Linked DNA regions of Homo sapiens: all the other regions are linked to region 2. The links come from fine-mapping of genetic effects on gene expression. A gene starts in region 2. Each other region holds a variant in brackets. All regions are shown on one strand. Distances are between the middles of the regions. Region 1 overlaps CLCA2 (chloride channel accessory 2). Region 2 holds the start of ODF2L (outer dense fiber of sperm tails 2 like). Region 3 holds the start of MIR7856 (microRNA 7856).

What was found. PIP is the estimated chance that this variant, and not a neighbour inherited with it, causes the effect.
Region 1: its variant is fine-mapped to the expression of ODF2L in whole blood (TOPMed, PIP 0.96).
Region 3: its variant is fine-mapped to the expression of ODF2L in thyroid (GTEx, PIP 0.94).

The regions. Positions count from the first base shown.
Region 1 is chr1:86,441,720-86,449,739 of GRCh38, reverse strand. CLCA2 (chloride channel accessory 2) reads right to left here. Exons shown (of 14, transcript NM_006536.7): 10 at 5,729-5,953; 11 at 1,962-2,232. Among named protein-coding and RNA genes, the nearest start is that of CLCA2, 22 kb to the right of the region's middle. The variant T/A (reference allele first, on the strand shown) is at 5,136.
Region 2 is chr1:86,392,176-86,400,264 of GRCh38, reverse strand. ODF2L (outer dense fiber of sperm tails 2 like) reads left to right here and starts at 3,942. Exons shown (of 17, transcript NM_001366781.1): 1 at 3,942-4,232. RefSeq lists an enhancer at 3,968-4,017.
Region 3 is chr1:86,353,887-86,361,975 of GRCh38, reverse strand. ODF2L (outer dense fiber of sperm tails 2 like) reads left to right here. Exons shown (of 17, transcript NM_001366781.1): 11 at 1,440-1,550; 12 at 3,085-3,189; 13 at 5,374-5,532; 14 at 7,117-7,202; 15 at 7,284-7,446. MIR7856 (microRNA 7856) reads left to right here and starts at 4,289; the gene lies at 4,289-4,344. The variant G/A (reference allele first, on the strand shown) is at 3,805.

The DNA.
Region 1 (8,020 bases), 50 kb before region 2:
CTCTATCCTAGAGGTCAATTCAGTTTTCATACCACACACACAGCCCTGCATACCAGCAGTGTATCATTGCTAAAGTGTCCCCAGAATCTCCCTCTTCCCCACTGCAAAGGCAGGGCTCCTTAACATAAGAAAAGCAGGAGTATATTTAAATGAAATAAAAAGTGCTAAACATTTTATTATCAAGATAGATTTAGAACTCTTTTTTGTCTGTTGTAAGAAATCAAATCTTGGTATTTAGTGATTTAATGATTAATAAGGTTTATCTTTGTTGAGAAATTACAAAGGAAAATCTCTCCATATTAAAGTCACCACTGCCACCTCTTTTAATAACTGAGGCAGAAAGAAATGGGGAAAGAACATTGGCTTGGGAGACAGAGGAATTAATTTGAAGGCCTGCATCTGTCACTTAGTAGCTATGAGGCTTCATGTCTCTGAGCCTCAGTTTTCTCATCTATAAAATGGAGATAACTTATCTTGCAGGGTTGTTGTGATGATTATTTGAGAGTATGCATGAAAAAGTACATTTTAAATTGTAAATCATTTCAGAGGTATAAGTTTTATTACAGTTCATTTACTGAGCAAATAAATACTGCTTCCATTATAAAAGTATTAAACAACTATGTACATGCGTGTTAAGTATTGATTGGAGGGGAAACAATTTACATTTTGATGCCTGAGCAGTATTTTTTATTGTTCCTTTTTTTAGTGCATACATTTAGATATCAAACAAATAAAATAGTTCCAAGGAATAATATAAAAGCCAATTGAGCTGAATCAGACGATATTCCCTAGGGGAGTAGGCTCTGTTCTCCAGGCTGGCCCACAGGGTGGGGCAAGAGAGAAACATTCTGCAAAAGTACATTTTTGGACCATAAACAAAAAATGAAAGGTGCAACCATGGATAAGCCATCAGAGCATGAGAAGTTCATTTGGATCCAATCCAACAGGCAAAACAAGAAGACTTCTCTGGTATCCCCCAGTGGTGGACTTGAACCAAAACCCTTTGAATGAACTTTTGTTTTCCTGCACATCATACATGATTGCCATGGCAAGATACTGATGGGCTACCAAACTTAAGACTCTTGAAAAAAGATTAACTTTGAAACAACAGGGCAAAAGAATATAATTTTGTTAGCAGATCAAACACTTCGGGCTGCCAAGAGGCAGGTCTACTGCCATTCTAAGAATGTAATTTAGGAAAATAACCAAATAGGAAAGATGGAACAACAAAGGAATTTGTTTTTCAAAGGATCCCAAGTGCTGCTGTTTACCTGGCTGGATGCTATACCATCTATAATGTATGATGACGAGGCTCTGAATGCTGTATGTGCAGAATGAGAACTTTTCTCTATTCTGATTCCACTAGGCTTGCAGGCTGGGTCTTCTTGGGACCAAATTACACACGTAAAAGGCATTGGCTGTGCTAGAACTGAGCTGTGCCCTCTCTTCAACCCAGCCTCTTGGGTCTAGGGTCATCTTATAGGTCACAAGTTCAGTTTCCAATTTTTTCTTCATAACTGGGGTCCAAAGGGAAAAAGTGGGTTCGCTGTCACTGCACCTCCCTTCTGATTTTCATTTGCTATTTTAACAGTCCAATCTGATTACTTCAGTGAATAATAAAGCTAGTGACTCTTAGAGGAATATAAGTATGTCATAAGGACATAGAAGCCTGCTCCTGTATGACCTCAGCAAGTGGAAGCCAGGACCAAGGTGTCCAGCGGCTGCCTCCCACCCTTTGCTCAAACATAGACACTATGAGGAGTCTCACAAGGACTCTCTTTTTCCATGTTAACCTGTAGCTATTCAGTATATCAGTGACTCTATAAGAATTTGAGAATATTGTAAGATTAAAAAAAAATTGAACTCAAGGAATCTTACAGATAAGCTTAATATTGATACTACCGCATCATATCACAACAGCTGTTGAGAAGATGATAAAATGTCATGACATTCCTTGTTACCTGCTCCATCATCAAGGAGTCTCAGCGTAACAGGATCTCCAGTCTCTGGCTCAACTGTGGCAGTGACAGTGGCATTAAGAATGGGATAAAATCCCTGTTTCACATTGGCATAAATCATCACAGGATGAGGAAAATGGAGGCTGTCTCTTTCCACAAAGGCTTCCACAGTGGCTGGGGGCACAGCTGAGTTGGAGGCGCGAGAGGTCACTGTCACTTTCAGGGCTTGCAGAGAATGATGGGTATTGTTCAGGGTGTAAGTCCAGTGCCCAGGCTGTAAAACAAGTCTTATTGTTTTGGAAAGTGTGAAAAAAAAATCAACCCTAATTTTAAAGCATACATCAAAACTTCTGGAGAATTTTGCTCTTGTTTTGTTGATGTTGCACTTTTTAAAATACTACAAAAAGATGCCAGGAAAAGTAGCATTGGTTAAGGGATGAATAAATTTGTATTTACATGGCTTTCATAGCATAAGTCACCTTTATTTCTAGATAATTCTTTAGGGAATTACACCTCGAATTTATTTGGAGTGAGGGAGGATACATCTTGATTCCCATTTTTAGAACATAACAATAATAGTGTCCAGCTTCAAAGTACTTTACAGATATTAATCTGAGCCCCTTCCCCAAAAAGGCGTTTAAATGTTTTTCATTTCTTTTCATAACTGAGAAAATTACATCAAATTAATTGGACCATTATAATTTATGTGGACACCGTGGACTAAAAAGGCAACAACATCCTTCTTTCACTCCACTTCCCAAAAACTCCACACTCAGAAATCTCAATCAACAAAAAACACATACACTACTAGGGACCAAGAAAAGGACCTACTATTTTTAATAGGTCAGGATTATACAATATCTAATTTGGGTAATTTATAGAAATACTGCTAAACACTACTCTTGCCTATCTGCCTGGGAAAAACCTACAAAAGAAAATCTGAAAGAAAAAGACTAAAATTACAATATAGCAGAAATTCGTCCTTTTGATTAAGCTATACATATATTGCTTTTCCCTGACTTCTGCTGCTGCTCCTTATCAAACCCCCAGAAGTAACAAGTGAAACACAACAAAGCAGAAGGAAGAACAGAAAAGCAAGGGGTTGAAGCGTAACTCAGGGTGGAGAGTTCAGATGCACCACACCCTAGCCATCTTTCTTCATTGGGATTCATGAGCTTCACTATTTTCCATTAAGTTATGATTCAAGGACTATGTTTTTTTGTTTTTGTTTTTTGAATCATAACATTAGTGACAGATGCATGGCAGGAACTTCCACATCAAAAAGTTCTCTGAGTGTAATAAATGTTTTGATACAGGGCATCTAATCCAGACCAAGAGGTCAGGCAAGGGGAGCAAGAAGTAGGTAAAGTGTCCCTGGCCCTTATACACAGGTGTGAAAAGAACATGATGAATTTGGAGAAAAGTTCAATAGGAGCAGAGCATCGAAGAAGTTAAGAGAGAAGCTTGGGTAGAAGCCAAAACATGAAGGGTCTGGTATGTAAGATTTACCACTTGGGCCTGGTGACAGAGCGAGACTCCATCAAAAAAAAAAAAAAAAAAAAAAAGTTCCCACAGCTCACCACTACAGAAGCAGAGAAGACAACTATGCAGAAAACAGAGTTGGTGGCAGTCAGGAGGAATGCAGCTGGTCTGTTGGACCCCTACTGGATTGGGGGAGTGCAGAAGACACTGGTGAAATCCTCTATACTGAAGACCTGCAGTTGGGAGCAGGGGGAGTCCATGGGTCTGCTGATTTTTTTTCCCTATTTAGTACTAATGTGTGTGTGATCTTTGTTTTACAAAATACCTTTTGGGTTTTCTGCATATTTTAAAATTTTTGTACAGTTTTGAATTCTATAGATCGTCTTGGAAGGATACTGTGTGATGAGCCAGGCACACAGTAATTGGAGACTTTTAATGTGTGTAATATTTCATAGATTGCATGCTATTAATCGTCTGTGAGGGTAGTATTTTTTGTTTTATTATAAGTTTCCCTCATTTTTTTATAAATTAAAAGATGGTTGGTATTAGGAATTTCAAATGAATGCAGAAAATCTTACATGCTCTGTACTATTAATATTATAACAAAGACGATCCAAGTCCAAAATCTGACCAATAAAGCAACCATTTTATCAAGATAGAGGATTCTACCATGGGAGAGGGGATTCTTCCCTCCTGAAGTTTGTGTGTCCAATCCCCTTAAAAAAAATGAATAGTTGTCTTTTCTTGTCATATTAATACTCGAAAGTCCATGGTGATATTAATGAAAGTACACTTTATTGTTGCCTTTGACCTTATGGCCAAGGCAATAAATCAGAAACAAAAATAGTGCCAATGTGTCAAAATCTACAACTGAGAGATTCAGCCTCCCATCTGGAATAAATGCGAATCTTCTAAGCTAAAAAAAAAAAAAAAAAAAAAAAAAGGTTAACACTTGGATTTTATTCTGAAACCACCAAGGAGGTTTTGAACAAAAGACAGACTGATTTGTGCTTCAGAAGGATCGCTTTTATAGAGGTAAAGAATGGACTGGAGGGATGGCAGTTCAGAGTCAAGAAGGCTAGTTAAGGGGCTGTCAAGAAGGTGGTGGGAGCGGTGGCTCATGCCTGCAATCCCAGCACTTCAGGAGGCAGAGGCAGGCAGATCACTTGAGGTCAGGAGTTTGAGAACAGCCTGGCCAACATGGTGAAACCTCATCTCTACCAAAAAATACAAAAATTAGCCAGGCATGGTGGCAAGTGCCTGTAGTCCCAGCTACTCGGGAGGCTGAGGCAGGAGAATCGCTTGAACCTGGGAGGTGAAGGTTGCAGTGAGCTGAGATGGTGCCACTGCACTCCCGCCTGGGTGACAGAGCGAGACTCCATCTCAACAACAACAACAACAACAACAACAACAACAACAAAAGTGGGGGTGGGGCAGCATGTGAGGAGGCACTGAATTCAGGCAGTGCAAGAGTGAATCTGATCAACTTACAGTTCTCCTTAGAACCATCAGTGGTTCCCTTTCACTTTCAGGATTCAAGCCCCTGTTCACTTTACTGTTGTGCAAAGCCCTTGCTAATACAGCTCCTGTTTACCTGTCTAGCCTCACTACTCCCCTCTCCTTCCTTTGCCTACATCCCTAACTTATAGATTACCCTACTCTATTGAACTACTCTAGTTCTATGAACAGCCATGT[T/A]CTTTTTATCTGAGTCTTTCTATATGCTGTTTCCTCTGCCCACAATATCATACCCACCTCTGGCCTGTTATTCCTTATATTTCCATTTTGATGTCTTTGCTTCCAGGAAGCATTCTTCCTTCCACCCTCTTGTATGTTCTGATAGTACCCTGTTCATGCTCTTACCATGGCATTTTATTGTAAAGTACCTGGAACAAAACCCAGCACACCCAGTAGATGCTAAAAACCACATGCATTGCATGTATTCATATTATAAATTCTAAGTAGAGATTTTTTTCTAAGCATATAGAAAAGTGTGTTTGTATGGATTATGTAAAGAAATATGTAGGCTAGAAAAACATTAATTGTAATACTAGTGGAAATACTAATTTTCAGTGTTGAAGTATTTGGTGTCTAATATATAAAACTGGGAATATACCTTAGTTATTCCTCTTAAATTTTTAATATTCACAAAATGGCCTCATAAATTTAAAGTAAACTTTTGATATATTAAAACAAGATTTTCTTTACACAATGCATTTAATCATGTGATTCAGCTGAAAATCATAAACTTGGTTGAACGTTGTCCTTAGGAACAAACTCACAACACCTACCTTAGCTGTTCCTGGAATCCAAAGACTAGCTGTCCGAAAAGTTAGATTGGTGATAAAATTATTTGTGTAGTATTTTCGTCCATCAGGATCAAATAATATAATCTCAGGAGGACCACTGGCCTGCCACGTAACTAGAAACATAGTGTCGTTGCCCACAGTATTATCCACAGTCACTGTGTTTTTCAATTGATGGTGAGGTTTGACATTTTCACCTGTACTTTCAAGCTGTTAAAGAGAAGATATATATGAGAGTTTCTGGTGTATGCATAATCATTCCATCTTTTTCTTTTTTAACAAACAACAATTAATTGGCAAAAATAAAAATAATTTAATTCTGACAGGTACTGTAGTTATACATCATTTTTCATAAAAAATACTTTGCAAAGCAAAATATTGCATGTTATTTAAGTACAGTAGGTATAAAACATTTTGTTGTAGTTAATGCAAGTGTCATTTCATTATTCTTTATTAAAAGATGTTAGCTGTCCTCATATTATCTCTTATCCAAACCAACATTGGCCTCAGATCAGCAATTACAATGACAAGCTTTTAAAAATTTTCATTTGTGAATATGCTTAAATTTTATTAATTTGTATATAATCTGTCCAGATCCTTTTATATATTTCGATAAGAAATAAAATCTTGGGTTTTGGCATGGTTTTGCTACGTTAAAAAATTATTTAGGCCGGGCACAGTGGCTCATGCCTGTAATCCCAGCACTTTGGGAGGCCAAGGCGAGTGGATTGCCTGAGGTCAGGAGTTTGAGACTAGTCTGGCCAACATGGTGAAACCCTTTCTGTACTAAAAATACCAACAAATTAGTCAGGTGTGGTGGCATGTGCCTGTAATCCCAGGTGCTCGGGAGACTGAGGCAGGGAAATTGCTTGAACCAAGGAGGTGGAGGCTGCAGTGAGCTGAGATCGCGCCACTGCACTCCAGCCTGGGAGAAGAGCAAGACTCCATCTCAAAAAAAAAAAAAAATTATTTAGCCATTCACAATAAGCCACGTGTGTGCACACACATGTGTAACATGTACAGAGTACAAACGTATGCCTGGCCCCATGCTAAAGGCTTCACAATCTCACTTGATCCTTATAAAAATCCTCTGTGATAAATACTATTGTTATCCACATTTTAGAGATGGGAAGAGTAGGCTTAGAGAAGTAATTTGCCGATGTCACATACCAAGGGAATGGAACCGTGATAAAACCCAGTGGGCCTGACACCAGAGCCCCTGCATTTAATTACTGCGTATTTCCAATGGATACAAGTCTCTAAATAACTTTGAAAATTTACATTTATTAAATAAGCACATTAGTAATGCTTCGTTAATTGCTCAAATCTGCAAAGCGTGTAAAATTATATTGGTGGATAACAGCAAAGACATTGTGAATTGTTTGTTCAAATGAATTTAAGAAATATTTATGGATTGCTGATGGCTGGGCCACATGCTATGCTGGGCCCTGGGCTGTTGAAGAAGATTTACATGTAGTTCCCACCTCACTCCAATGGAGCTAATGACTCCAACAGCTTGTCGGGAGGGGGGCAAGTTTGGGAACGTTAAGGCTTATTTGATCCCATATGAGTAATATTTTGTTAAATTTATTTTTTACTTCTTTAAACATTTGTTTTTATTCCCTATTGTTGCAGAGGAAGTCACAGGGCATAAAGATTGAGCATTATCAGAAGAGCCAATTGTAGCCTAATCTGTACTAGATATTGTCATATATAATTCACATTTTTACTTCTTATTGTGGAATTGTGTTTATTGCCTTCACTGTGTAAATATAATCTTCACGTTAAATAAATTGACAGGCTGCATTGGTCACATCAAGCCATTAACTTGGCAGGCACACTTGCCATCTGTGAGGAAACTATAGATGAAATTTTGTTCAACACATTATTCAGTTATGTCCAAAATATCTTTAAAGTACTTTGGAAAGAAAAAAAAAGTGGCCCTATGAAAAGGACTTAACTAGAGGAAGCTTTGGTGAGCAAAATCATGTAAGTTGTGGTAGTCAAAGAGATATTTAGATATTTGTGGTAGAATTTAATGAAATAGTTGATACCCCTTATACAAGGAAGAGCTTCAAAGATGTTGAAGAAGCAAAAATAAGATGAATTCTGATTGACAGAAAGTTACTATAACACTAAAAGTAAATTCACAGTTCCTTATTTTTCTTCTGCACCTTGCCTCTGCCACACCCCCATCTGCACTTGAGCCACAAGAAAGGAACAAGCTCCACTCGCAGACTTTGAAAAGCTGAGGTGGCAATTGTGGTAAATGGCTCC
Region 2 (8,089 bases):
TTAATACATATGTACTTTATTGAATATAAATTATACAACCATTTAAAAGTGGCCTATAATCCTCAGGAATTAAGTAGTCACTGAAGGCATACCTTTGTTGGGAATGGCAGGAATGAAGAATACAAAGATTGTGGGGTGATTTTTCTATTTATGACTGTACTAGGATGCTTAAAGAAAAATGTGATAAGCTCAGAGGCCCAGAGAACTTCTATGATTACCTTAAAACTTTATTAATTGCTGGGATGACACATCCAAATCAAGTATTAATGCTGTGAAGAGCTAAATTACAAGGTAAGTTGAATAAACAGACTCCTCAGGTCTCTTATGTAAGAAATTAAGGCATTGATTGGGAAGGAGTTGGATCTTTAGAGTTGTGATAGAGAGGTTGGGTGAATTCGGATAGCTCTATTATCTTAATACGCAGACACTACAGAGCTTTTTGCTTTCTGAAGAACTCCTCCCTTCCTATCTATAGGGCTGGTCTTGTACTCCTTGAAAATTCTGAAGTAACTTAATCTGAGGAATTTACCTTGTGAATCAATTGAGAAGAACTGATTGTTCTCAGAACTCAACTGTTATCAGTTCTTTATACCTCTAGACTACATCACCTAGTAGAAATATAATGTGAGCCACATACGTAATTTAAAATCTTCTACTAGCTACTCTTAAAATAGTGAAAAAGAAATAGTTGTGGTTAAATTTTGGTAATATATTTTATTTAACTCAACATAAACAAAATATCATTTCTGGTGGCATTGGTGGTATAGTGGTGAGTATAGCTGCCTTCCAAAATATCATTTCGACATAATCAGTATGAAAATCAAGATATTTTATGTTCTTTTTCATATGCAAAATGTGTGTATTTTGCATTTACAACATGTCTCAATTCAGAATCATCACATTTCAAATGTTTGAAATAGCTATAGGTGGCTGGTGGCCTTTGTATTCTCCATATTGGACCGGGGTTTCTTAATGTCAGCACTGTTGACATTTTGTTGTGGAGGATGTCCCGTGCATTGCAGATGTTTAACAGCATCTCTAGCCTCTACTCACTAGATGCCAGTAGGACACTTGCCCTTCCTCTTTGGCTGTGGCAAAAAAAATGTCAAGAACCACTGGTCTAGATCTAAAGTTAGATCCCAACATGTTCCAGGGTATAATAAAAGATCTGACCTGGGAGAAGGGTTTCATACCAAAAAAGTGCAAGATTTTGCTTATTTATATTGGCAGAAGACTATAGAAAATGATAATGAATTCCAAGTGTGGCAGACCAGGGATGAAGGAATATTTTTGATGAGACCAAGATATTAATATGAATACATTTACCAGAGACCATAATTCACTGTTCTTGCTTTGAACATCTAGGAGTGGCTGTCAAGGTTTGCTCAGTTGGTTGATTGAAACTAAATAAAGTTGAGATGTTAGAAATCTCTTGATTTTAGAGGATTGAATTAAAAGACTTAGGGAAAGGGGTAACGAAGAGAGGTTGATTAATGAGTGCAGACATACAGTTAGATAGAAGAAATAAGACCCAGTGTTTGACAGATAAGTAGGGTGACTATAGTTAACTATAATCTATTGTATATTTCAAAATAACTAGAAGAGAACAATTTGAATGTTCATAGCATAAAGATAAATATTTAAGGTGATGGATATCCTGACTATCTTGATTTGATCTTTACACATTACACATTCATATAAATGTATCCAATTATCACATGTACCCTGAAAATATGTACATCTAGTATGTATCAATTTTTAAAGAAGACTTAGGGAATAGTACTGTATGAATGGATTTATCATATGTTACCCAGTCATCTCCTTTCAAAGGTGTTCTGAGAGGGCCAAAGGACCTTCTTTTTACTAAAGCATTGAGAAAATATAGGGAATGCCAGAATCCTTTAAAAGCTCTGTAGCTGCTATTCTATAAGCCTGGGGATAAAGATGCTGCCATTGCATGAAATCCCTAATTCCCTAATGGAAATAGTAAGATCCCAAAGTGATAGAGGCCAAGTGATACCACTGAGCCATCAGAGATGAGATATCTGTTGATACCATGATACCAGCAGGGTGTATCATATTGTTTGACTAAGGGGGATCTTTAGGAGTTGATAATTAATCACTGCCCCTATAATTGAAATGGATAGTCTGCTAAGATTCTACTTAATTTGTACAGCAAAAAATTTACCAGAACTAATGAAGAGACCTGAATGTCATAACCTTAAAGGAGATTTACAGCATCTTGACATTGGCTTTTTGACTCATGGCTATTATAATAGGAAGACAAAGTGGAAGCCTTTGGAACTGCCCTTATCTACTAAAAGATTAAACCAAAGGCAATACCATAGTCCTAGGGGAATTCCAGTGATTAGTGGCACTATTAAAGAGTGCAAAGATGTAAAGGTGGTGATTCTCCATCACACTTTCATTTAACCTTCTGTTTGTCCTCTGCAAACAGGTTATCTAAAATGTTGCTTTTTAATTTTGAAGTATTATTTGTATTCAAGTATCTTTATTCTATTTCATTGCCTGCTATTTTTACATTCTAGTCCCCATTTGTTGCCATGAAGATAGAAATCACAATTTCTACCCAACACTGTAGTGTTGCATCCTGCACACAAACGTACTTTAGTGAGCTCATATGTTTATGTTTATGTATCATCTATGGCTTTTCTTGGTAAGACAATGGCAGAGTTAAATAGTATCACAGAGACCATATGACCTGCAAAACCTATTAATAAAATATTATCTGGCTGTATGAGCACATTTTCATACTGCTATAAAGAATTGCCTGAGACTGGGTAATTTATAAAGGAAAGGGGTTTAATTGACTCACAGTTCAGCGTCGCTGGGGAGGCCTCAGGAAACTTACAATCATGACGGAAGGTGAAGGGGAAGCAGGACACCTTCTTCGTTAAGGAGAAGTGCCCAGTGGAGGGGAAAGAGCCCCTTACAAAACCATCAGATAGCTTGAGAACTCACTAGCATGGGGGTAAACGGCCCCCATGATTCCATTACCTTCATCTGGTCTCTCTCTTGACACGTGGGGATTATGGAACTGCCCCCATGATTCAATTACCTTCACCTGGTTTCTCTCTTGACACGTGGGGATTATGGGGATTACAATTCAAGATGGGATGTGGTCGGGGACTCAGAGCCTAACCATATCACTGGCCCTTTACTAAAAAATTTACTAATTCTGTCTCCCGCTTTAAATTATGAAAGGGACAATTACAGTACTGGTGGAAAAACATTGCTGGAGTGCTTTAGTGAAACCAATTATTTAGGTAGCAGCATGCCACGGTTATGGCTTAGTTGACAGTTACTCTACTTGTGAACTTCATAGGTTGGTGTACGATTCTTAACATGAATATTAAGTAGAGGCATTGAATGAAGATATTTTTCCAATTAAAATCTTGCTTTGCTTCTTCAGGACTTTATAAACCAGACCAGCTGGCTGTGGCACAGATACGAAAGACTTTGAGACCCTGAAGGCACCTTGCAGAACATCCTCAGGCTTCCTCATTTAACAGGAAAAAACCTGAGGCCCAGGGAGGCATCTCAGCTAAAAATACTACTATACATTTAAAAGGAGGTTTCTTCCGGTCGCAGTTGCCTTCACGTTTTCAAATCTTCTCTTTAAAAAGCAAAAGCAGGGCACAACCAGGCCAAGCGCCAGAAAACTCGGAATTGGCTTTATTTCCTTTTTTTCTAGTTGGGCTCGGTTATGATTTTCGGTAACGTACACAAATGCTGTCCTTGTCCATAAACAAACGCTTAAAAAAAAATGTTTACCCGAGAAACAAGGATAGACACGAAGCTGCCCTCCCTGCCCCGTTCCTCACCCTCTCCAATAGCTATAGGCGCTGCCCGCCGTCCCTAACCCGGACCAATCGGCAGCCTGCTGCGGGCCTGACGGGAGGGGTGGGGCCGCCGTTGCCAGAGAAGCCACTAGCCGGTTACTAGCTGCGCTTTTGTTCCACTTGAGCGGGCACTCTTCTGCGGCAAGCAGGTCTAGGAATTCGCCTGGTTCCCACCTCGCGTCCCTTGCCTTCCTTCCTAGTCTACCCACTGTAGTGCCCCCTGCGTCCCGCTCCCTCCTAGCCGACTCAGAGCACAAGAAGGATTGCCACGGTTTCCATTGCAGCAGCCGTGGCGCCTCTGACCCTTTTTTTATATCGCGGCGACGGCGGGCTGTCGTCACGACGACGTGCGGACGCAGCGGCGGGGGCGTAAGTACGCCTTTTGGGTTGGGGGCGACTTTGTGGGGAGCCTAGCTGCTGCTGGGCGTTTACCGCGGGAGCCCTTAGCGGTCTGGAGGTGAGGGCAGTGGTGGGTCCCGGAAGTAAAAGGCCCTCGCGCCCACCCAGCCCCCTCCGCGCAAACCCTCCACCTCCCTCAGGCTGACTACCTGGCCTGGGAAAAGGGCGGCGAGACTCACTCTTAGGAAGGGTGTGGTCCCCGGGACATCAGGGCAAATGTTAGCGTGAGGTGGGCTTGTGCAGAACGAAGTCCTGACCGGGCCGTTCCTGGATATGGTTGCATTTCTTTCAGAAATAGTGACCTCTTAATCATTGGGCTGGTTTTTAATCGCCCATCATGTGATATATCAGATTGTAGGAAGCCCTGGGGGCTTCGTAAGTGAGGTATATTACAGGAATCCTCAGGAAATAATTCCTTCTCCAGGATTCCTCTAGGTTCCAGCCCCTATAGGCGACCCCTGTAGTGCGGGATTGACCTAGGGTCGTGGAGAGTGCTAAAGGCCGACTTGTGTTCAGTCCCAGCTCTGCCACTGAACCCGCTGTGTGGCCTTGTCTAGGTCACTGAACCTTCCTGGATTCCTTACTGATAACTGTAACAGTAATCATCACTTTGGGGTGGTTGTAATACGAGATTAAGTAAACGCAGGGCCATTAAGGTGGCACCGAATGTAGGTGGTTAGTGAGTGGTGGTGCTTGTTGTTTACTGAGAATAACCATACTGGGGCTGCTGTTGGGGATAAAATCTATTTCGAAGACAGTTTCCTCATCACGCAACGCATAGTACGGTTTCAAGTGTTTTTGAATGAATGAGGTTCTTGGAGTTTTAAGTGCAACTGAGTTAAGGTTAAAGAAACAAACCGGGCCGGGCGCGGTGGCTCACGCCTGTAATCCCAGCACTTTGGGAGGCCGAGGCGGGCGGATCACGAGGTTAGGAGATCGAGACCATCCTGGCCAACACGGTGAAACCCCGTCTCTACTAAAACAAATACAAAAAGTTATCCGGGCGTGGTGGCGGGCGCCCGTAGTCCCAGCTACTCGGGAGGCTGAGGCAGGAGAATGGCGTGAACCCAGGAGGCGGAGCTTGCCGTGAGCCGAGATCGCGCCACTGCACTCCAGCCTGGGCGACAGCGCGAGACTCTGTCTCAAAAAAAAAAAAAAAAAAGGAAAAAGAAACAAACTGCAGAAAACCTGTCTGCTTTTGAAATTAGTTTGATATTCTGCTTATAGTAAGAATGTCATGATCATGTTTATGATTTGCTTTTTGCTTCTCTTTTTCATCTTCTTATTTCACAATGGATGTGTATTTATAGTGTAGTTTTTCTATCCCAAAAGTTCCTTGTGACAAACTTTAGAACAATGGAATTTAGTGATCTGGTCGCGGTCTGCTCTCTCTCTTTAGAATTGTAGTCTGTGCTTTTAGCTAGCTCATTCATCACTCATTTCCTTGTCCAGAACAGTTTTCATCTTTTGAATCTAAATTGAACTTATGAGTATTAAAACCTGACTGAATAAAGGCAAGTTTGTGTGTTACTTTTTGCTTTGTAGATTTTTATATTTATGTTTTAGTATCTCATGGCTTTTTTTTTTTTTTGAGATGGAGTCTCGCTCTGCCGCAGTGGAGTGCAGTGGCGCGATCTCGGCTCACTGCAACGTCCGCCTCCCGGGTTCAAGTGATTCTCCTGCCTCAGCCTCTCGAGTAGCTGGGACTACAGGTGCCCACCACCACGCCTAGCTAATTTTTGTATTTTTAGTAGAGATGCGGTTTCACCATCTCATGGCTTTTAATTCAAAACTGAGTTCCACCAATTCCTTACTTGTAATCTTGGACAAGCTATTTAACCCTTCTAAGATTTAATTTACTTATTTATAGCTTTTTAATAACAACCTTGTGAAGCTTTTGTGAGATGATGTTTATAAGGTCAGTCAGTGCTCTGCTCAGTAAATGGCAACAGCTGTCGTGTTGAAGGAAAGGAATATGCTTTATGTTTGTCTGGTACAGGATGGTGACTTTATTTGGGATTAGACAATATTCTGAACATCTTTGGCCAGGTCTTTTTCCGGGTAATTGGGCTCTATATGGACACTCAAAAGTGTCCGAGTTTAAACAGTAAATAATTTAGTCACCCTAACTTATATTTGAGAACCTAATCTATGCTCCCCACTGTGTTAGGTAATTTTTTAGGGCAGAGAGTGATGCGTATTATTTGTCCTCACAGTTAATAGCAAGTTTAAAAGAGAACTAAAATATGAGCATTTATGGAGCAGTTAAATTCTAAACTATATGATTCTGAAAATACTTTTGTTTAGAGTTCTTGATGGGCTGGAGAAATCAGGGCAACACTTTGAGAAGGAAATGGAATGTTGGCTTTGAAGTACATGCCGTGTTTACAGAACAGTCACTCTTGCTGTCAACTCTTCTTCCTATATTATCCAGTCTGCAGCCCATCTTTTAAATATACATCCTTCTTTTTTCATTGGAGAGAGGGATTACTAATTTGTTATCTAATCTAATCTCTCTGTATCAGAAAACGTTTTTTCCATTTTGGTAGCTTTTACGCATAAGATTTATTTTCCAGCTTTTTGCCTGTTTCCAAGATTCCTATCCTTTTTTTTTTTTTCATACAATTACCTCTCTAGTAAACGTTTGACTAGTGTCCAGAATAGTAGGGGGAAAAAAAGAGGATTCCTGTATCTACTTTGTGTTCCTTGCTGAATATGCCATGGTGACTTTTTTCAGTAGAAGCTGTGTTTGAAGCCAGTGGAAGTTAGTTTTCTAAGAATTTGTGTTTGGCAAAACAAAATGTGCAGGTTTCATATGCTATTCTCTTCAGAGATATTGTTTTAAAATACATATTCATCTGAAGTTAGTTAATTTACTTAGTCTGATCTAGGTGTTAAGGAAGGTCATGGACCATGATTTTCCTTTTTCTCTGACCATGGCTAGCATCATGGTCCCTGAGCAGTTATCCCCAAATGCTTGCTGTTGGCCACAGTGGAACATAGTTTAGTGAATGTAGCTGGATCAGCATAGCCTACAAGCACTCCTGGAAAAAGCTTTAAGTACATGTCCTCTTGGCAGTAGACTGGCAAAATTGTCTCTGTATAGGAAATTTAAATCTTTAAACATTTTAAAATATTTTAAAATTGCTCATCTTTAAGGATTTTTAAATGGTTTTTTAAAATTTTTTATTTCCATAGGTTTTTGGGGAACAGGTGGTATTTGGTTACATGAGTGAGTTCTTGAGTGGTGATTTGTGAGATTTTGGTGCACCCATCCCTGAGCAGTGTACACTGAATTCCAATTGGTAGTCTTTTATCACTCACCCCCTTCCCACCCTTTCACCCTGAATCTCCAAAGTCCACTGATTCATTCTTACCCCTTTGCATCCTCATAGCTTAGCTCCCACTTATAAGTAAGAACATATGATGTTTGGTTTTTTATTGCTGAGTTACTTCACTTAGAGTAATAGTCTCCAATTCCATCCATGTTGCTGTGAATGCCGTTAATTTATTCCTTTTTATGGCTGAGTAGTATTTTATCATGTATATATTATATATATATGTATATCACAGTTTTTTTACTCATTGTTTGATGGACATTGTGTTGCTATAAACATGCATGTGCAAGTATCTTTTCTATATAATGACTTCTTTTCCTCTGGGTAGGTGGCTAGTAGTGGGATTGCTGGATCAAATGGTAGCTCTACTATTAGTTCTTTAAGGAATCTCCACACTGTTTTCCATAGCGGTTGTACTAGTTTACATTCCCACCAACAGTGTAGAAGTGTTCTCTTTTCACTGCATCCATGCCAACATCTATTATTATT
Region 3 (8,089 bases), 38 kb after region 2:
AGCTGCTTTTGTGTTTGATGTATTTTACTGCTTGTTCTTATTTTTTGTCTGTCTGCCCCTCCAGTATGTAAGCTTCATGGAGGAAGGGAATGTCGTCTGTTTTGTTCACTAATAGAACCTTCAGTGCCTGCAGCATTTTAAAAAGTAACTAGTGAACATATTGGCTCATGTATTCATCAATCATTCACATTTCTGCCTTTTTGAATTACCTACTCATTATTTTTTATATTTGTCTTTTGTCCTAATTAATATATAATAACTATATTAAGGATATTAATCTTATATTTGTTTTATTTTTCTAATGACAAATGTTATTTGACAAGACATCAAATTTGTCATTTGCTAATACTTTTTCATATTTTGTTTGCCATTTAAACTGTATTGGAAAGCTGTGAAATTTTGGAGAGAGATACACGCACACACATTTTTTTAAATGGCTTCTCTTGAGAGTGCTCTCACAGCTCTGCACATCTTGTAATCAAAGATATTGTCCATGTAGACTGTCTTTTGAAGGATGTTTGTATAGTAGATATCCTTGGAATATGGTAACCGTGTCTCCCTTAGGAGTATGGGTAGGCATGCTCACTGCCTGCTATAAGAAATTTGGGTTCCCTAAACTCAGGTTTGTTCTTCTGTAATGCATTTGACTGCATATACAGTTGCCATCTGGCCTCTGGGTTGCTCTGTGGGAACTGGGGCTCAGCAAACTGATACAAATGCTGACAGTCTTGCTACTCTTATTGCTGTGAGTAATAAGTCCCCTGTCTCTGACCTAGGAATCTTGTACCTTCTGTTAGCATCCATGAAATTGCAGTAGACTAACTAGTAAGCTTGCAAGGAAGATAAAATCTCAGACTTTTACATTTCTACATATCTTCTTTTAATTTTATGCTCTTTAGGACTTTTGCTATCCTGAAATGAAATACAGTTTTATCTGAATTGTCTGAAAATTTTTAAAGTTTTTATTTAATTCATTTGATGCTTCTTTAGTGTTGGGCTGAGGCAGGTAGTTAACCTGTTTTTTTCCTAATAGTTAAACAGTTGTCTTATTGTCATTTATTTAGTTGTCCATGTTTCCTCCATTGATTTAAAAATCTAACCTTTATCATGTATTAAGTATAATTTTTGTGTATTTTTCTTTTCCAGTAACCTCTGTATTCTATTGATTTTTCATATCTAGGCACATTTCCAAGTTTTTTTGTCAGTAAATTTAGAAAGTTTTAAAAATAATATGTCCTGTGTAAATCTTAATAAGGATGTTCATAATTATTAGTCACTAGCTTTGTGAAATTCCTAAATTTTAGATGGTATTGCATGAAATAAAAAATAATTATTTTATCAACTTTGTTAATACATGAGTTATGTTTTTATAATAATTCTGTAGCACTGGAGTATAAATGTATTCTAATGACTTATAAAATCTATATCTTTTTTGCTAGACTACACTTGCTGCTTTGAAGGATGAAGTTGTATCTGTTGAAAATGAACTCTCAGAATTGCAAGAAGTAGAAAAAAAACAGAAAACCCTTATTGAAATGTATAAAACTCAGGTGACTACTGCATTTATTTTAGTGTTTACTAAAATTGGTAGACAATTTAAAACACTATTTCTTTGTAATCTAAATAAATAGAACTGAAGAGAGGTGGGGCTATCATTGTGGGTTATAATATGGTGTGTCTCAAATATTTCTTAAGGTCCCACACATCTTTATAAATAGATGATTCTGCTGATTCCTGATTCAAACACTGCATATGGATATACTGGATATTCCTAAAAGTAGATTTAAAATGAATTACATCGGTATAATGTGACCCTTAATGTATTCTTGTTAATCTTGGTTATATTTGTTTGTCATCATGTGTATTTAATGGTATTGATTTAGATTAATGACTCCCTTCTAGGGTCATTAAAGTTCATTATGCCTCCTTTCTCAAGAAATAAAGTATAATTCAGATTATTCACATGAAAGACCAAGAAAAGAACATATGACAATATATATGAAATAGACCATGTGTTCAATGGTAATTTATAGAAAACCTTTATTTTTTTGGAAATGTAGTATTCAAGAAAAAACTTCATAAGATGGGACTTATGCAGGTCCTTGCATGATGGTTAACACACTGGTCAGAGAGAGTTTGAATTAAAGAATAATGAACTGGCTGGGTGTAGTGGCGTACACCTGTAATCCACTGGGAGGCTGAGGTGGGCGGATCATTTGAAGTCAGGAGTTCGAGACTAGCCTGGCCACCATGGTGAAACCCTGTCTCTACTAAAAATACAAAAATTAGCCAGGTGTGGTGACATGCACCTGTAGTCTCAGCTATTCAGGAGGCTGAGGCAGGAGAATTGCTTGAATCCAGGAGGTGGAGGTTGCAGTGAGCCGAGACTGCACCAATGTGCTCCCAGCCTGGGCAACAGAGCAAGACTCCATCTCAAAAAAAAAAAAAAAAAAAAAGAATGAACTAAGGATGAAAGCTTAAGGGGGCCAAAGTGTGGGCAAGTAGGAAGGGGCTGCATCTCGATGGATTAGATGGGAAAATTAAGTTGAGACATCCAGTTAGAATATTTCAGTCATCCAGGTCTGAGGTAGGAATGGAGGTTGTGGTGGACTGTGGGACTTGTTATTCATCAGGGTCTTCCAGCTGGTTATTTGGGTTTAATCCCTCAGCAGGAATACTGTGGTTGAGTGACCATATTCTGGGTGCAGGGCCTAGAATTTTTTTTTTTTTTTTTAGCAGATTTTGATTTGGTGGGAAAAATAATTTAAATGGAAGCTAGTTTGGACCAGAGACTGATTCTTTGAAGTGACATTGATCTGCAAATGAAAATCTTTGTAGTCTTCAAAGCTCAAGTGGAGAGTTTAGAAGTATTGATGAGAGAAGACAGGTAAATCAGACAAAGATTGTGGGTTAGAGTAGAGCACTGAGTGATTCCATATTTAAAGAAGTAATAACATTAGATGAACCAGTCAAGGATATTGATAGGAAAATAATGACTTGTTTAAAATGAAATTTTAAATTTTAGATTTTTATCTCATGTTATGATTCTAAAAATAATATGTTTCTCTAATACTTTATTTTCAGGTACAAAAGTTGCAAGAAGCAGCTGAAATAGTAAAAAGCAGATGTGAAAATTTGCTACATAAAAATAACCAAATAACAAAAACCAAAAATAAAAATGTAGAGAAGGTACGTTTGGAATTTCAAATAAATAATATTTTATATATTTTTTACTTTATGAATAGTACACAAATTCATTCATTTTGGTCATTTTCTCTAGTTCATACTTAGGAAAGGGCTAGTCTTAGCCTCTGTAAGAGTTTGTTTTCCAAGGAAATAATGTTTCTTCCAGGCTGGAAATGTTGTTTGTTTATGTGAATGTTTTTTCACTTTTTTGTTAATATTTGGAAAATAGCATAAATGTTTAATTTTTCTGATGCAAGAGCAGACTTTAAATAGCTCAAAAAATGGTTATCAATCATAAGTATACAAACCTAAGTATCTCTCATTTTTAATCTCACCCTTTTTTTCTGGTTATAAATGTTTTACGTCTACAAAAGCAAAGCCAATATCTGCTAAATGCATTTTTGAAGAAAAATAATATCTTTTAAAAAACGATCATTTCCTTTTATTTGTTCTATTGCAACAGAATGAAGGGAAGGCCAGTGTTGGCGAGTTATGATGTTTTTGTGAATATTTTAAAATTTTTAAATGAAACCGCATCTCTGTTTGGTTTTTTGTGTTGTTTTGGTAAAGAAGCAGTGAAAGTTGTAGGATGCTGACTCCTGGCAGCAGAGGTCATGC[G/A]ATGTTAGTGGTCGCTTCCATCTGAATCTAATAAGGTTACTCTCTCTGGGTTGCTCCCTATCTTAGGATTGAGAAGTCAGAGCAAGGCAATAATGTGAAGAAGAGGTCAGCCAGAGCAAGCGTCCTCCAGTTATACAGACATAAAGATAGCTCACTGAATGCACAACTTACTGCTTTCATGGAATTACTTTTCACCTATTTTTAGCAGGCCAGCGAATAAACCATTTCATGTCTTTTGGTCTCATTTTCTCATGAAACATACCAGTGCAAATGTCTCCTTTTCTGCTAGGCAGCACTGTAAATAAAAGCATATTTTACAATCCTGTTCAAATGACGGAAAGGGTTGGAGCCTGTCTTTTTCAGATACTGTGAGGTCACAATGTTTTCTAACTAGTATTTAACAAGACAACTATTTTTTTAATGAAATTTTTCTTTTTCTTACTTCACTGTTTTAAGTCTCCTGGTTTTCTCATGGCCTCTAAGATGTTTTAAGGACACTGAGGGATCCTTTGTTCTGGATCCCTCAGTGTCCTTAAAACAGACATTTTTCAGTCTGTTTTTTTTTTTTCCTGTTTTACTTTATATACCATCAGAATATGGATCATGTGTATCCTGTTAGTAGCCACATAGCCTTCTCCTAGCTCAATGCCTAGCACGTAGTAAGCACTCAATATTTTTTTAATTAATGAAATTTTTTTTAAAGGAGCAGTCCAAGGATGGCGACAAGTCTTTTTTCTTTTACTTTCAAGACAGTTTTAGGAAGCATTCCCTGTCTGTCTTCCAAATATAATCTGGATTTTAATTTTGCAAAAAAAAAAAAATACTGCATTATCTTTCCTGATCAAGAATGCCAGATACTACACAGAAACTATTAGGTGTTCCTGTCTCAGGGAAAGAGTCTGGCTATTTTTTGTAATTAGCAGTGCAAACATTTCTTAAGGTTGCTGCTTTTCACATCTCCACGAAAGTGCTGCAGCGAGGAACTGCAGTAGCCAAAACAGATTAATGTAGATGAAATTAGAGAGATTTGTTGATAGTAACATTAATGGCCAAATTAAAGGCAAGTGAGAACTGATGATACTAGCAATTTTTAAATAATATACAGTAAACCCTATCAGTTTTGGCTAAGATGAGTGAAGCAAGCTGCTCTAATTTAAGTAAGTATCTGAGTTATAAGATTGAATGACTAAAAGTGACAATTCCTTTAGAACCTATAGCTGGGCAGTAGACAATTACGGCTTTATTAGTAATGGTTATTAGTGATAATCTATGCTTGAATATAATGTCAGGATTTTAAAAATTTGCTCTTAAAAATTAGTTAAACATCCACCCTGTCAGCTAATTTACCCTATTTATGTGCTCAACAAACTTTTTGAAAACTAAAGTCTACCCCACTTTTTAGTTATACATTCTTATTTAACAGAGTTTAATATTTATTCAGTTGTGTTCTTATTTAAAGCCATTATACCTAAAATACTTACGTTATAAGCATATCTAGTATTTAAGATAATAAAAATATTAATGCTGAATGTGTGATCTTGCACTTATTTCCCTACTGCCACAACTCAGATGAGAGGCCAGATGGAGTCTCATCTGAAGGAGTTAGAGCGTGTCTGCGATTCCTTGACGGCGGCGGAACGGAGGCTTCACGAGTGTCAGGAGAGTCTGCAGTGCTGCAAGGGGAAGTGTGCAGACCAGGAACACACCATTAGGGAGCTTCAGGGCCAGGTGTCCAGCCGTCCTTCTGAGTTTTGCTAGATGCGTTAAAAGAATGCTTTGGAATGATTTCACCAGTTGAGGGCACTCATGTCAGGGCTTGATTTTTAAATTCCCATCTACTTAGTTCGTAAAACATCATTTTCATGCAGATACTATAATACAGTTTTGCAAGCTATTCTTTTAGTATTTTATGGTGAAAAATTGGTAATTAAAATTCTTATTTTAGTTTATTCATGCAAATCTATAGACATTTGAAGACATGGTAATAGAATGAGAGAAGGAGCAAAGTTATACTTACATATATGTTCCTTGATGTAAGGATAAGGTAAATTATTGAAACTTACATTACAAAAATTGAATTTATTTTAATTAGAATTGTACGTCAAGTTTTTTGGGATATTTTTCAGTCTGTTTCTTTTTCCTGTTTTACTTTTTATACCATCAGAATATGGATCATGTGTATCCTGTTAGTAGCCACATAGCCTTCTCCTAGCTCAATGCCTAGCACATAGTAAGCACTCAATATTTTTTTAATTAATGAAATTTTTTTTAAAGGAGCAGTCCAAAGATGGTGACAAGTCTTTTTTCTTTTACTTTCAAGGCAGTTTTAGGAAGCATTCCCTGTCTATCTTCCAAATATGATCTGGATTTTAATTTTGCAAAAAAAAATACTGCATTTTCTCACTTAAAAAGTAGGAGCTAAATGATGAGAACACGTGGACACATGGAGAAGAACAACACACAGTGGGGCCTTTCAGAGGGTGGAGAGTGGGAAGAGGGAGAGGATCAGAAAAAATAACTAACAGGTACTAGGCTTAATACTTGATTGATGAAATAATCTGTACAACAAACCCCCATGACACAAGCTGACCTGTGTAACAAACCTGCATTTGTACCCCTGAACTTAAAAGTTAGATAAAAATATGCAGACAAAATTTTAGTTTAAATTCCTGAGAAGAGATTTTTCTAGTAAAATGTCAAACGACATAGATTAGCCTAAATTACTAATTGAAATTATGAGAAAAAAATTTTTTCCTTGAATCAAAGCTTCTTACATTATTTAGAGCAGATTTTGAAGCAGTGGGAAGAATATTCTGTCTTGGCATGGGTGAGTGTGTCTTTGGTTGATTTGTTCACTTTGCTTCTCAAAAAAATATGTATTTTATTTACAGTTTCGACTTCACAGATACTCAATTATTAATCAGTATTTTTAGGTGAAACAGAAAACCATAAGAGAAACCCTAGGTATCCAAAAATAGGAGATTAATACTGCTTAAAATTTTCCTATTTCAACTTAACAAAATAAATATCTTTCTTCAATAAGGTGTTGTTCAAAGTGTTTTAATAGCCATCATCCTGAATTTTTTTTAGTTGGTTATTTTCCAATACAGGCAACATAACTTCTTTAAATTTAACCAGGAATTTAAAACTTCCATTTTAACAATATAACATTTTCTTGGTGTCTTTCTGTGTAAGAGTAGTAACATTTATACCTTCTCGTTGCTTGTGGTTGTTCTAACAATAAATTATATGGATTTCTTTGGAAGTTGATTGTGAAGAAAATGACTAAGAAAACTTTTTTTTTTCTTTTAGGTTGATGGAAATCACAATCTTCTGACAAAGCTTTCTCTGGAAGAGGAAAACTGTCTTATTCAGCTGAAGTGTGAAAACCTTCAACAGTAAGTATTAAATTACTTAACATTGCTGCTGCATATTTCTCTGCACATTAACATTTTAAAATATATGTTTTCTGTAAAAAGAAAATTAGAACAGATGGACGCAGAAAATAAAGAGCTTGAGAAGAAGCTGGCAAACCAAGAAGAATGTCTTAAGCACAGCAATCTTAAGTTTAAAGAGAAATCTGCAGAGTATACAGCATTGGCCAGACAACTGGAAGCTGCTTTAGAAGAAGGAAGACAAAAGGTATGCATGGCCTTTATTTAGAAACTTTTTAATTCATTTACCAAAGAGTCATCTTTTTAAACATCTTGCAACCTGTAGTTATTGTTTTTGTCCTGATGACAGGGTGAAGGGAGCAATTACATTTTTCTTCTTTAACTATCTTCCTTTTCAAGCAAAACAGATACATTGCTAGGCTAGAGCTACTTCACTAGATAAATGGTAATGTGGCTGGGGAAAGGGCAGAGATGGAAAACACTTTGAAGACATAATCTCCTCCTGTACCTTTTTTATATACAACCAAATTGAATGTGCAAATAATTGAAAATTTTTGTTTTGATCAGGATTCAGTGAGCTGTAAAGTTCAAGTCCCTTTTGACAAATATTGTTGCATAGATAAATACATACAATATTAAATTTCAGTTACATCCATTAGGTTAGCATTCAACGAATACTTCAGTATCAGGCAATCTGCTAGTGCTTGAGATGCAAAGATGAATAAGACCTGGCCTTAGCTCTCAGCACTCTCATAGTCTGGTGTAGGGTTCAGCCTAAGTGCATTTTGGAAATGCCAGGTATGCTCTCAGATTCCTTCCTGAAAGGAAGAGTTCAGAGTCCCAGAGGTATGTCTGCCCTCTCCTTTCTCTCCTGCTACAGTGGAATATGG